2 linked regions of the Homo sapiens genome follow. Changing the gene in region 1 together with any one later gene gives a genetic interaction. Each region holds a gene or a part of one and is shown on either strand. Other genes may lie near its edges. The genes, in order: RAB25 and CDH1.

Evidence for each region.
Region 2: changes in RAB25 (region 1) and CDH1 together harm fitness more than expected from each alone (negative genetic interaction), as found in Homo sapiens cells (one large-scale study listed by BioGRID).

What each region holds. Positions count from the first base shown.
Region 1 is NC_000001.11:156,059,767-156,063,959, forward strand, and holds the start of RAB25 (ras-related protein Rab-25 precursor), read left to right. Parts: upstream 1-1,393; 5' UTR 1,394-1,634; coding exon 1,635-1,677; intron 1,678-4,193. UniProt on the Homo sapiens protein: The small GTPases Rab are key regulators of intracellular membrane trafficking, from the formation of transport vesicles to their fusion with membranes.
Region 2 is NC_000016.10:68,743,579-68,747,595, forward strand, and holds part of CDH1 (cadherin-1 isoform 1 preproprotein), read left to right. Parts: intron 1-4,017.

The sequences.
Region 1 (4,193 bases):
TTTTTTTTTGAGATAGAATCTCTTGCTCTGTCACCCGGGCTGGAGTGCAATGGCACAATCTTGGCTCACTGCAATCTCCGCCTCCCGAGTTCAAGCAATTCTCCTGCCTCAGCCTCCTGAGTAGCTGGGATTACAGGCGCGTGACACCATGCCTAGCTAATTTTTGTATATTTTTAGTAGAGACAGGGTTTCACCATGTTGGTAAGGCTGGTCTTGAACTCCTGACCTCGTGATCCGCTGGCCTCGGCCTCCTAAAGTGCTGGGATTACAGGTGGGAGCCACCGCACCAGGCCTCTTTTTTTTTTTGAGACGGAGTCTTGCTCTGTCGCCCAGGCTGGAGTGCAGTGGCGCGATCTCGGCTCACTGCAAGCTCTGCCTCCTGGGTTCACGCCATTCTCCTGCCTCAGTCTCCCGAGTAGCTGGGACTACAGGCACCTGCCACTACGCCTGGCTAATTTTTTGTATTTTTAGTAGAGACACAGTTTCACCGTTTCTACCATAGAGCCAGAGAGGGCCCCCTCCTGTTTTTTTATCTCTTACCAAGACCTCCTGGGGCTCCTCATTCCTTCAGGATGGTCTCGATCTCCTGACCTTGTGATCCGCCCGCCTCGGCCTCCCAAAGTGCTGGAATTACAGGTATGAGCCACCGCACCCGGCCTTTTTTTTTTTTTTTTGAGAAGCAGTCTCTGTTGCCCAGACTGGAGTGCAGTGGCACGATCTCAGCCCACTGGAACCTCTGCCTCCCGGCTTCAAGCAATTCTCCTACCTTGGCCGCCCAAGTAGCTGGGATTGCAGGCGCCCACCACCATGCCCAGCTAATTTTTTTTTTTTTTTTTTTTAGACGGAGTTTCGCTCTTGTTACCCAGGCTGGAGTGCAAGGGCGCGATCTCGACTCACCACAACCTCCGCCTCCTGGGTTCAAGCGATTCTCCTGTCTCAGCCTCCCAAGTAGCTGGGTTTACAGCCATGTGCCACCACGCCCAGCTAATTTTGTATTTTTTTAGTAGAAACGGGGTTTCTCCATGTTGGTCAGGCTGGTCTCAAACTCCCGACCTCAGGTGATCCGCCCACCTCAGCCTCCCAAAGTGCTGGGATTACAGGCGTGAGCCACCGCGCCTGGCCTCAAGTGGGTTTCTGAGGGGCTATTTCTTGCTCATTAGTTGGGGGACCGGCCCTCACCACAGATTCCAGAAGCCCAGCAATGCACACTCAGCCCTCAGTGGGCTGTCTCTGAAGGTCCTGTCCCTTTTTCGCTTCCCCCCCGCTGGAGCTGCTTCTCCCGCTTGCGGGAGCCCAGGCTGAGAGCAGACACCCAACCTGTCGAACCTGTCTGACGTCATCATCTCTCCACCCACCTGGGCCCCAGGTCTCCAGCCACCCCGCTCTTCCTGTTCTCAGCTTCCGTCCTCTCTGCTTCCTTACAGCACCCCCACCTGCCAGAGCTGATCCTCCCTAGGCCCTGCCTAACCTTGAGTTGGCCCCCAATCCCTCTGGCTGCAGAAGTCCCCTTACCCCCAATGAGAGGAGGGGCAGGACCAGATCTTTTGAGAGCTGAGGGTTGAGGGCATTGAGCCAACACACAGATTTGTCGCCTCTGTCCCCGAAGACACCTGCACCCTCCATGCGGAGCCAAGATGGGGAATGGAACTGAGGAAGATTATAACTTTGTCTTCAAGGGTGAGTTGGGTTCCCTGAAGCAAGAGGAAGCCTGAGAGACCCAGAAAGAGATTGAATAGAGCCAGAGAGGGCCCCCTCCTGTTTTTTTATCTCTTACCAAGACCTCCTGGGGCTCCTCATTCCTTCAGAAAGAAAGCTGCAGGGAGTGGGGGAGGGTCTGGTTGCAGGGGCAAAAGTCAGGGAGCTTCTGAGTATGCTCTACTGTGGTAAATAATGATGTTGATTCCTCCTTAAGAGTGCTGAGTTAGGCTCCTCTGCCCCGTTCCTAATAGAAACCCAAATCCCTGGTGTCAGCCAGTGCAGCACAAGAGATGGAGGTCAGACTTCAGAAAGGACTTCCCTCTTTTATTTTTTTTTCTGAGACGGAGTCTTGCTCTGTCGCCCAGGCTGGAGTGCAGTGGTACAATCTCAGCTCACTGCAACCTCCACCTCCTGGGTTCAAGCGATTCTTCTGCCTCGGCCTCCCAAGTAGCTGGGACTACAAGCACCTGCCACCACGCCCGGCTTATTTTTGTATTTTTAATAGAGACGGGGTTTCACCATATTGGCCAGGATGGTCTGGAACTGACCTCATGATCCGCCTACCTCGGCCTCCCAAAGTGCTGGGATTACAGGCATGAGCCACCACACCCGGCCAGGACTTCTCTCTTGAGAAGAAAGGGAAACCAGCAAACAAGAGGAAGAAAGTCATCTTTTCTGGGCAGGTGTACAGGGAACGAGAGAAAGGAGAGACACATCCCATTATAGGGTGGGGCAATAAATACATAGGGAAGACAGAAAATATCATGAATTTGCTGCAGAGTCTGATAGAATCCAGAGGACTCCTAGGGTTGTAGCCTCGTCTGCCTGGCCCTTGGCTGACTCACTGGACCTGCATACCAGGCACTGGGCTCAACTTTGCTGTCCCTGGAAGCATGCATGTATCTTTCTAGCCCCTGTGTTTGGTGCCTTTGCTGTTTTCCAACCCCACCTTCATACTTCCTTTAGGGCAGGGTGGACTCTCCAGCCACCCTACCCCAATGCCTCTCCCAACCTCAGCCCGGCCCCTCCCTTGAGCTGGGACTCTCACTCCAGAACCCGCCCTTGAGCTGGGGAACCTGTACTACTGGCATCTTTTCCAGGAAGGAAAGGGTTAGCAATAGTCTGGGGCAATAATATGAGGAACTACCATTTATTGAGCACTTACTATGTACCTGCCACTACCTCATTAATACCATAACAATCCCCGAAAGTCATATTTTATTTTGAGGGGCAGTGTAACATTGTGGTCAGGAGCCAGACTGGGTTCAGATCTCAGCCCTGCCACTTACAAGTATTGCGGGTTGGTCAGCCGGGTGCAGTGGCTCACGCCTGTAATCCTAGCACTTTGGGAGGCCGAGGCGGCGGGATCACTTAAGGTCTGGAGTTCCAGACCAGCCTGGCCAACATGGGGAAACCCTGTCTCTACTAAAAATTCAAAAATTATCTGGGTGTGGTGGCACGTGCCTGTAATCCCAGCTACTCGGGAGGCTGAGACAGGAGAATCACTTGAACCCAGGAAGCAGAGGTTGCAGTAAGCCGAGACTGTGCCACTGCACTCCAGCCTGGGCAACAGAGCAAGACTCTGTCTAAAAAAAAAAAAAAAAAAAAAAAAGTATTGAGGGTTGGGTTGGGGTCCCTAGAAGCAGACGCTGAGAAGAAGTTGGGGTGTTCAATGTTTGTTTGTTTTTTGAGACGGAGTCTCGCTCTGTTGCCCAGGCTGGAGTGCAGTGGAGCGATCTTGGCTCACTGCAATCTCCGCCTTCCTACAACCTCCGCCTCCTGGGTTCAAGCGATTCTCCTGCCTCAGCCTCCTGAGTAGCTGGGACTACAGGTGTGCACCACCACACCCAGCTAATTTTTGTATTTTTAGTAGAGACAGGGTTTCATCATGTTGGCTAGGATGGTCTCGATCTCTTGACCTTGTGATCCGCCCTCCTAGGCCTCCCAAAGTGCTGGTATTACAGGCGTGAGCCACCGCGCCCAGCTCAATGTTTTTTTACAAATCAGCACCTGTGAAAGGAAGGGAGAGGAAACATAATTGGGCAGAGGGAGAAGTCAAACAGCAACACAGGCTGGACAAACCTGGGTCAAGGGCGGGGAGCTCTGTGATTGCCTCACCTTGCTTGAGCACTGGGTGTAGGCTGCCCAGAAAAGGCATGACTTCCAGTGAGGCCGCTGTCTGCACCAGAGGCAGACGCTGAAGGAGCTGACAGCTGGAGCCTGTCTGCAGCCTGCACTCCCTGCAGCTTGGGGCAAGTCCTTCCTTGAAGGCTGATCTGGCCAGCACATCTCTGTGTTTACAACACTAGCCCTGTTATCTTGGGCAAGTCATTTGACCTCCAAAGCGCCTTGTCTGTAAAAACAGGTAAAATAGTAATGGGATTCATGGCATTCTTATGAGGATTAAATGAGGTAATATGTGTAAAGCTTTTAACGACACTGCCTGGCACATAGTAAGCATTCAGTACACTGTAAACATGAACCATTAGTATCTC
Region 2 (4,017 bases), on another chromosome or scaffold:
GGTCTTGAACTCCTGAGCTCAAAGTGGTCTACCTGCCTCAGCCTCCCTAAGTGCTGGGATTACAGGCGTGAGCCACCGAGCCGGGCCCCTTCCTGGGTTTCTATCCTGCCTCAGCTCTATCTCCTTTGAGGGCACAAGGCTTTCAAAAAGGAGAATGAAATCATTCAGCAGTGGCTGTTTAGGATCCTTCAGCGAGGAAGTACAGGAAACTAGGTTTGAATTTTAGCCACTAGCTATTTGACTTTGAATAAGTCACTTTACTTCTATGAGTCTCAGTTTCCCCACCTGTAAAATGGGGCGGTAATACTTATTGATCTATTATGAGAATTAAGTATGTACATTCATTTAGTTCACAAAAGTGAGTGCCTGTTGTGTGTTAGCACCAGGCTAGACCCTGAGGTTACGGCAGATTGGACGGAACATACATGCCAATGGGCAGGAATGTAAAGAGAGAAAGTAGAGAGAATATTTTCAACAGTAGTTGATATTTCTTAGGGACACAGTAAACTCTCAATGTTATTTTGAGCAAATGAATGAACACATGAATAAATCGCTATCTTGGCCAATATTTTTCCCTCTCAAACTCTATGGACTTGGTCCAGCCCTTAAGGTTGATTGTAAATGGGCGGGGAAGAATTTGGTGGGTTAGAACCTTCCATTATGCTCTGTGTGTGCTGGGGATACTGTGTTCATAGCTTCCCTCTGAACAGCTGTGCAGGGCAGGCAGGGAGATCTCAAACCTGAGTCTGGAAATGGGAGGGCATATAGCCATTTTTAAGTGTTTTCCACCTTTGGTCAAATAAAAAGAAATCTGTGGTGCATGCTCACTCTTTCTCTCTCTATCCCCATCTCTAGCCATCTCCCTTTCTTTCTCTCTTCCTCTTTGTTAATGTAAGTTTCCCTAGGCCAGGGATCTCAGTGTCCCAGCTTGTTCTTGTTACTCTTGGGGGACTGGGGTTTAGGCCTCCTCCCTTTCTGCACTTTTCATCTTCCTCCTTCCTTCCTCTTACCTGCCTCCAATCCTCCACTTCTGCCCAAGATTTGGGTGGCATCTTCCCCAAATTCAGAAGGTTCTTGAATCAGACTGCCTAGATTTCAATCCAGACAATGTCACTTCCCAGCCTAGGGATGTCAGCCAAGGACTTAGTTTCCCTCTCTGTAAAATGAGCATAATAGCATGGAGACATCATAGGATGGTATGTCAAGCGTTCAGTGAATATGAAATATTAGAGCCCCAGGAGGACTTGGTGCTGTCTGTTTGAAAGTCTCCCATGTTTTACGTTTGGTTCAAAAGATCCCCTGCGCTCCCTCTCACCCAGCAAACCAGCCAAACCAGTTTCTTCACCCTGCCTGCTTCTGTGTTAAGCAAACAGTGCACTGCAAACAGTGACTAAGCCTAGTGCCTTGTTAGGAAGAAACTGGCGTTTTTTTGCTTGCCACTGTGCAGGGTGCTCAGGGTGGACCGGAACGGGTTTGTTGTGGCTTAGGAAAGGGGACCTGCTCGTGGAGGTTGTGTAGAACTGGAGTGGGAGGAGTGGGGCAAGGCGCAGCTAGGGCCGGGGGAGTCGGGATGATCTTGAACTTGTCAGCTTCTGCTTGGCTTTTAAAAGTTATCCAGGCCAGATAGATGCTGTGGCTCACACCTGTAATCCCAGTGCTTTGGGAGGCCAAGGCCGCAGGATTACTTGAGCCCAGGAGTTTGAGACCAGCCTGGGCAACGTGGCGAGACCCCCATCTCTACAAAGATTAAAAAAAAAATTTAGCCAGGTATGGTGGCGTGCACCTGTGGTACTAGCATCAAAAAAATGCAAAAATTTGCTGGGCGTGGTGGCATGTGCATGTAGTCCCAACTACTCAGGAGGCTGAGGTGGGGGGATTGCGTGAAGCCCGGGAGGTCGAGGCTGCAGTAAGCCATGATTGCACCACGGCACTCCAGCTGATAGAGATCCTGTCTCAAAAAAAAAAAAAAAAATATATATATATATGTATATATATATGTATGTGTAATATATGTGTATATATATGTATGTGTATATATATATATATATGTATATATATTTCATGATGCACATGCCTAAGAATACCTGTCTGTTCTCCTGCTGCCAAAAACGCTCTGTCCCAGCCCCTGAGATCCTTGTGGCTAAAAATCAAATCACCTAGGGCACTTCATGCAGACTTGCCCTCTTGCAGATTCACTGAGAGCCAATCTCCAAGGGTGGAGATCTGAACTTGACATTTACTTACTTATTTATTTTTTGGGATGAAGTCTTGCTCTGTCACCCAGGCTGGAGTGCAATGACACGATCTCAGTTCACTGCAACCTCCGCCTCCTGGCTTCAAGCAATTCTCATGCCTCAGCCTCCCAAGTAGCTGGGATTACAGGCATGCACCACTACGCCTGGCAATTTTTTTTGTATTTTTGTAGAGACGGTTTCACCATGTTGGCCAGTCTGGTCTCAAGCTCCTGACCTCAGGTGATCTGCCTGCCTCAACCTCCCAAAGTGCTGGGATCGCACGCGTGAGCCACCACACCCAGCCTTGAATTTGATGTTTTTAAAAGCTCCTCAGGCCAGGTGCGGTGGCTTACGCCTGTAATCTGCACTTTGGGAGGCCAAGGCGGGCAGATCATGAGGTCAGGAGTTTGAGACTAGCTTGACCAACGTGGTGAAACCCCATCTCTACTAAAAATTCAAAAATTCAGCTGGGCGTGGTGGCATGCTCCTGTAATCCCTGCTACTTGGGAGGCTGAGGCAGAAGAACTGCTTGAACACGGGAGGTGGAGGATGCAGTGAGCCGAGATTGTGCCACTGCACCCTAGCCTGGGCAACAGAGCGAGACTCCATCTCTAAATAAATAAAATAAATAAGCAAGCTCCTCAGATATCTGCTGCCACTCAATGCATTTCCCTGGACAATCCCAGGGGCTAGATGTTTGATGAGTAAATACCCCAGCCAGGATGTGGGCACCTGGTTGTCCAGCCCAAGGCCAGGGATCCCAGGTCACACCCTTGATCAGGGAGGGATAGGCTGGTGCTTCTGCCATGCCCAGGATTGAGAACTCTATGGATGCAAGGAGGGGTGGATGGGAGGCTGGGTGCAGTGGCTCATGCCTGTAATCCCAGCACTTTGGGAGGCCAAGGTGGGAGGATCACTTGAGGTCAGGAGTTTAAAACCATCCTGGCCAATATGGTGAAACCCCGTTTCTGCTAAATATAAAAAAAGCTAGCCGGGCGTGGTGGTGCATGCCTGTAATCCCAGCTACTTGGGAGGCCGAGGCAGGAGAATCACTTGAATCTGGGTGGCGGAGGTTGCAATGAGCGGAGATTGTGCCATTGCACTCTAGCCTGGGCAACAGAGCGATACTCCATCTCAACAAACAAACAAACAAACACACCAAAGTGGGGTGGATGGGTGTGGGAGTGGGGGACCCAGAGAAGTATCCAGTGCACCCAGGCCTAAGACTCACCCCCTACACTCAGGGAGATTCCAGAAAATCTCCAAGAGAGACCTCTCAGCAGGTAATTCCAGTAGGCTCCAAGAATGCCACTGGAATGAGAATGTGTTCAGGGGATGCCAGGAGTGGTCAGCTTCACCTGCTGGGCCTTGATGAGTAAGAGGGTGTCTTCCATGCAAGGAAAGGGAAAGGGCACTCCAGGAGGAGGAAGTGGGGTACCCAAAGGTGTGGCAGGGTCATGGAGGCAGAAGGCTGGAGCTGTGCCTTCCTGGGCACAGAAAGAGGAGGGAGGAGAGGGTCCCAGGATGAGGCTGCAGAGGCAGCTGGGCCAGGGTACCTCTGGGCCTTGGGCCGTGGGTCATGGAGGGTTTTCTCTTTCTGGGCTTTTCATAGGCAAATTATTCACCCGGTTAAAAAATAAGTTTAAATATACATCTTCATATATATATGAAAAAGCTTGTATATATGTCTGTATGGCAGACAGTGAAGTCTCCTTCCCACCCCAAACCACGCTTCACCCAGTTCTTCCCTGGGGCACAGGGAACAGATTTCATTAGTCTCTTG